2 separate regions of the Homo sapiens genome follow, and region 2 is reported to be linked to region 1. Evidence: microRNA targets listed by miRTarBase, many of them from high-throughput screens and not tested one by one. Region 1 holds a microRNA gene; the other region holds the end of a gene's coding sequence.

Evidence for each region. Region 1 holds the annotated microRNA hsa-miR-6877-3p (CAGCCUCUGCCCUUGGCCUCC, at 946-966, shown strand). A microRNA usually pairs through its seed, bases 2 to 8, with sites in the 3' UTR of a target mRNA and lowers its output. Matches are read on the target gene's strand: a 7mer-m8 pairs with bases 2 to 8, a 7mer-A1 pairs with bases 2 to 7 and ends in A, and an 8mer does both.
Region 2: miRTarBase lists NRIP2 as a target of hsa-miR-6877-3p. Seed matches in the 3' UTR shown: 7mer-m8 at 1,582-1,588 and 7mer-m8 at 1,627-1,633.

Annotation. Positions count from the first base shown.
Region 1 is chr9:133,051,090-133,054,089 of GRCh38, forward strand. It overlaps MIR6877 (microRNA 6877), which reads left to right and starts at 907; the gene lies at 907-970. It overlaps GTF3C5 (general transcription factor IIIC subunit 5), which reads left to right. Exons shown (of 11, transcript NM_012087.4): 5 at 971-1,075; 6 at 2,739-2,853.
Region 2 is chr12:2,824,807-2,827,806 of GRCh38, reverse strand. It overlaps NRIP2 (nuclear receptor interacting protein 2), which reads left to right. Exons shown (of 6, transcript NM_031474.3): 5 at 130-182; 6 at 508-2,459. The coding sequence ends at 600. It overlaps ITFG2 (integrin alpha FG-GAP repeat containing 2), which reads right to left. Exons shown (of 12, transcript NM_018463.4): 12 at 2,731-3,000. Among named protein-coding and RNA genes, the nearest start is that of NRIP2, 8.7 kb to the left of the region's middle. RefSeq lists a silencer at 2,390-2,684.

The DNA of each region.
Region 1 (3,000 bases):
CCCATTCCTTAGTGCATGGGAACTTCTCACCTTCAGATGCCATGTCTAAAGGCTGTGTCGGTATAAGTTCTACATTCCCAAGGTTGAAAATGCTTCTTAGAGTTCTTAAGAAAAATATGCGTGCGTTGTTCAGATGTGACATAAACGTGGAGCTCTGGGATCCACTGAGCTCTTATTCTTCCATTCACTCATTGCAGCCAAGCCAGTGGGGCACCTAGTGTGCCAGGCCCAGCACTTTCTTACCGTTAGAACTGGAACCGTGCTGCCAGGCAGCCCTCCTTCCCCGGGCTTGCGGGTGCCGTGGAGTCCTGCGTCCCCACTGGCATGAGCATCAGGTTCACAGGCCACTGCCACCTGGAGCCCGGCGCTTCCCTTACGCAGTGTGCCTGTGGGAGACCACGTGGATGTCTTGTTGATTTCCAGCAGTCACTGGGGCACACTGTCAGTGGCTCCTTATTGCCCACCAGGCACAGCCCACATTCCTGACCTGAATTGGCTCGTGAGGCCCGCTGCCCCAGCCCCCTGGCCCTCTACACTCCGGCCACACTGACCTTTGCAGTCCTCCCCGGGCCAGGCTGTCCCCTTCAGCCCTGACGATGTCCCACCTCAGGCACCTGTTCTGTAGATTGGGGCAGCATGGGGACCCTGGGACTCTAGCATGTGCCCCCTGAGCCGTACTCCCCACCGCGCTGTGGGCTCTATGAGGACAGCGACCATGTCTCTTATCGTTTGAGAGACCCAGCCCCACAACTGCACTTGGCACAGGCTGGGCATGCAGCCCAGGCTTCTGAGGGAAGGGATGAATTAGTGAGAGCAGGAGGTCCTAGGGCCACGCCCTGTGTGTCCAGCCCCTGTCCTCTACCAGCTCCTCTCTGGAGGGGCCGCTGGGGCCCAGAACATGTTGGGAGTTCAGGGCCGAAGGGTGGAAGCTGCTGGTGCTCATCTCAGCCTCTGCCCTTGGCCTCCCCAGCTGTTTGACATCCGTCCCATCTGGTCCCGAAATGCTGTCAAGGCCAACATCAGCGTCCACCCAGACAAGCTCAAGGTCTTGCTTCCCTTCATAGCCTATTACATGGTAAGTGTCAGCTGCCCACCCACCTGCCTTGGTTTCCACCCATGTGGTCCCTGGTCCCTGCTGTGATGTCTTAGAGCCACAGTAAGAGCAGCCAACCCCCTATCCTGGCTCCCCATCCTTCCTGCCCCACCCCCATCCTGGCCCATCCTTCCTACCCACCCCTGGCCTGGCCCTCATCCTTCCTGCCCTGCCCCCAACCTAGCACCTCCCCCGTCCTGGCACCCCCATCCTTCCTTCCCCCCTGTCCTGGCCCCCCGATCCTAGCATCCCTAAGACAGCTTATTAAAGCCAGCTAGAAAAGTTTCAGCTCCCTGAGTCCAGGGCGCCCTCCACAGCCTGTTGGGCTGCAGAACCCAGCCCCTGACCACAGCGGCCCCATGTCGTCCTCTACCTGTGTTGAGTGGGGTTCAGTGGGAGGCAGATCCACCTTTGATCCACAAGCATGTAAAGACACATGTCATTACTGAGGTTCCAAAGGTGCTGGTTGGAAAGGGATCCTCCCCGCTGCCAGGCCTCACAGAGCATTAGGGGAGGCCAGCGTAAGACATGACTGTGAGGGTCTGCAACAGGCAGTAGGACACAAGAAAGACTCATTTCTTCTGCCTTGTTGGACTTCCGGCTCAGGAGAGCGACCTGTGCTGCTTGGCGTTGGCATTTTATTTTATTTTATTTATTTTATTTATTTTGAGATGGAGTCTCACTCTGTCTCCCAGGCTGGAGTGCAGTGGTGTGATCTCTGCTCACTGCAACCTCCGCCTCTGGGATTCAAGTGATTCTCCTGCCTCAGCCTCCTAAGTAGCTGGGAGTACAGGCGCACGCCACCATGCCCAGCTAATTTTCTTTTTTTGCATTTTTAGTAGAGATGGGGTTTCGCCATGTTGGTCAGGCTGGTCTCGAACTCCTAACCTCAAGTGATCTGCCTGTCTCGGTCTCCCAAAATGCTGGGATTATAGGCGAGAGCCACTGCGGCTGGCTGGCATTGGCTTTTTAGACATAAGCCATTCAAAAGCTCCGTTTAGGGACAGAAGATGTCTCATCGATTAGGCCAGTAGTAACATTGGGCACTTAATATGTGCCAGGAACCATGGTAAAGGCTCCACGGGCGCTATCTCATTTAATCCTCTGAAAAACCATGGGAGGCCAGGCATGATGGCTCACTCCTAGAATCCCGGTACTTCGGGAGGCTGAAGCGGGAGAATCGCTTGCATCCAGGAGTTTGAGACGAGCCTAGGCAACATAATGAGACCCCATCTCTACAAAAAAATTAAAAATTAGCTGGGTGTGGTGGCTCGTGCCTGTAGTTCCAGCTACTTGGGAGGCTGAGGTAGGAGGATCACTTGAGCCCAGGAGGTTGAGGCTGCAGTGAACCGTGATTTTGCCACTGCACTCAGCCTGGGCAACAGAGTGAGACCCTCTCCCCCAAAAAACAAAAACCCACAGGAAAGGGTGCTCCTTTTCCCTCCATCTGACAGGAAGACCAAGGTTTGGAAAGGCCACGTGCCCTCACCAAGGTGACAGGGCCTGCATGTGGCAGAGCAGGGCTGGGCATCCAGAGCCCTGTCCCCAGCTCCTGAGCTCTTCTGCTGCCTCACTGTAGGCTCTGGCCCGTCCAGGGACCTGGGCCTTCACCTCACCTCACATTTTCCCCACTTTTCTGTCCCAGATAACAGGCCCCTGGCGCAGCCTATGGATTCGATTTGGGTATGACCCCCGAAAAAACCCAGATGCCAAGATTTATCAAGTCCTCGATTTCCGAATCCGTTGTGGAATGAAACACGGTAAAAATTCCTGAAAGCTTTGCTTCCTGCCTTTCTCTCTCTTTATCTTTCAGTTTCTAGCATTCTCTTTTGTAGTAAGAATCTTTTCATTTGGAAAGAATAAAAAAACCTTTTGCCCCCGTTGCTGAGACTCTTTTGAATGCAGAA
Region 2 (3,000 bases), not on the chromosome of region 1:
CCCCCATCTCTGTGCCAGTGTCCTCGGATCTGGGGATGGGGTGGGCAGAGAAGGAGCAACGGCTAAGAGGAGGGCAGCAGTGACCACTGGGAACCCTCAGCCTCTTCTGTTTTCAAATTGTTCCTATAGATGCTGAGAGTCCTGAATTCTGCCTGGGCCTGCAGACTCTGCTTTCTCTCAAGGTAAGGCACCCACTCAGGGCCTGACCCAAAGCACTGGGAAAAAGTAGTAGAAGGCACAGGTGTGGAACCTGGACCAGGTTCTGATGAGAGTGACTTAGAGATGGGCAACTGTCCCTTTGCTTCCTTAGAGGTTCCTTACTTACCACCAAGTGAAAAATCAAGAGAACTGGGTCACCCCCTTCAACAGGAGTCTAGGGAAATGGGGATGGGGGAAGAGCAAAAGGCAGGTGGAAGCTGTGGGAAGTGGGAGGGGGAACAAAAGGAGCAGGCCGGGAGGCAGGTGGCGGGCTGAGGTGACCTGGCATGACTGCTCTACACCCCGCAGTGCTGCATCGACCTGGAGCACGGAGTGCTGCGGCTGAAAGCCCCGTTCTCAGAGCTACCCTTCCTGCCTTTGTACCAAGAGCCTGGCCAGTGACTGCTGTCTCAGTCAGTCCCCAGAGGGAAAGACCTTGCCTTAGAAGAAGAGGCGTGTGGGGAACGGGGGCTCTTGAAGCCAGGTAGCTGGGGACTATGGTGTCTGCCCTTCCAATCACCTCCCTGACCCCTGCTGTCCCATTTTCCCCAGCTGGCCGCATTCCTCTCTGCTTCTCAGCAGCTGTCCTACTCCCCAGGACGAGTTTTCACTAGAGGGCCCACGATGCCAGGATTCTGATTCATCTTCCTCCCAAGAAAAGCAAAGCCAAATCAAGACCACAGATAGGAACCTAAGCACAATGGGGTGCCTGCTTGGGCTGGGTCGAAGGCTCTGCTGACTGCTGTCCTTGTCCATCACCCAATACCACCCCAAACACAACTCAACTTCCCACACCACCATGTCTCTCACCACACCTTCTGGGCCTCATTATCTCCCACAACTAGACCGCCATGCCTCACCAACCTATGTCCCTGGACCTCCTGGTGTCTGCCTCTCGGAGTCTGTGCACATCTGCTCACAGTTGAGTGGGGGAAGAAACAGCCAGAATTCAATACAACAAAGAGCGGGAGTTAGTATAGGAATGTCCATCTCATAAGGCTGAGAGCTATTTTTTCCTGTGGCTGCAAATGTCTGAAGCCAGTTAGTTTGATTACCCTGTGCAAAACCTTGGACATACTTCTGCTATTAACGCTATAGGTATTTATCCGTTTCCACTGGCTTTTTGTACCCACCGAGCCCCTGAGCCTTGCGTGTGTGTGTGTGGAAGAGCCTTGTAGAGAACTGCTCCTGTGAGGCAGACAGGACAGTGAGGTTGTCACCACTCAGACTTCACCTATTCAGCATTCTTTCTGATTTCTAGAACTATCCACCTCATTAGGCCTTCTTCCTATCCCCATCTCTGGCCTCTTGAGCTTAAGCTTGTATTGTCCTGGAATCAGTGGCTTTCTAACCCCCTGCCAGGCTTTGCCAAAGCAAAAAGACAGAGGCTTTTTTTTTTTTTTTAAAGTTTGGGGTCTGTCAGGAGACAGAGGCTTTTTTGAATTCACTGTGAAGAGAAGAACCCGAACCTTAAGACGCCAGATCCCTGAGAGTCTTTCTGGCTGGTTTGAGTCTCTCAAATCATGGATTAGGAGTAAAGAAAGAGGCCAGGCGCAATGGCTCATGCCTGTAATCCCAGCACTTTGGGAGGCTGAGGTGGGTGGATCACTTGAGGTCAGGAGTTTGAGACCAGCCTGGGTAATATGGCAAAACCCCATCTCTACTAAAAAATACAAAAATTAGCCAGGTATGGTGGTGAACACCTGTAATCCCAGCTACTTGGAAGGCTGAGGCATAGGAGTTGCTTGAACCTGGGAGATGGGGGTTGTAGTGAGCCAAGTTCGTGCCATCGGACTCCAGCCTGGGTGAAGGAGTGAGACCCTGTCTCCAAAAACAAACAAAAAAGGAGCAGAGAAAGACAGTGGTACAGCTAACCTGAACAAGGGAACTGGGACCGTTGGGCTGAAACAGTCTTGAGCCTGGGGTTGACTGGGTTAGAGAAGAACCGGGATGCAAGGAGCTGCCTGTGACACCTGGCCTGCCCTTTCTCAGCTGCCTCCCCTGCCCTTTCTCAGCTGCCTCCCCTGCCCTCAGAAGGAAAGGAGAGGGCTCACTTATCACTTGTGCCATAGCACCTGGTCTCAAAATCCTAAAAGCTTTCCTCGCCCTCACTGCCTTGCTCCACAAGGTCCACTTTCCTGGGTCTTGTGCTGTGCCTTTCCTTGTCTGCCTCCTGCTGCTTCTGTAACTGCAGACCCCAGGCCCAATGGCAAGCCCTCGGCTCAGCTGCTTCTCCATTGGAATAAACTCTTGTTTCTCTATGTCGATGTTCTTCTCTGGTCTTCCTCCCTGCCTATCAAGAGCTGAGTGATAATTGCCCATTGTCCCTTACAGAAAGGAAATGTAAATGTGGGCCCTTGCCCAGGCTGACCCATCTGACTAGGGTCAGTATAATTGAGAGGAATTTGAAAGCAATGGCTTTCAAACTCCTCGACCACAGCTTACCACAGCAGGAATACATTTTACATGGCACTCAGTACACACATGCACATATGACTAACAAAACAATACTTACCTACACTGAGAGCAATGTACTCTGCTATTTTCTATTTTACTTTATTCTATTCTACCTATTTAAAAAATGCTGGCCATAATCCACCAAAGGACTGCAACCACAGTTTGAAAAACACCGATTTAGAGCATAGAGAATCAAGAACAGACGGCACATAAATGACCCAAGATATAATTCTGATTGTGGTCTGGATCATAAACCCGCATCACATTTTAAATGTCTATTGTCTTGGAGACAATAAGCTGTTTTATGGGGGAATGGGTGGGTGGAAAAATGGGAGCAGGGCTTCT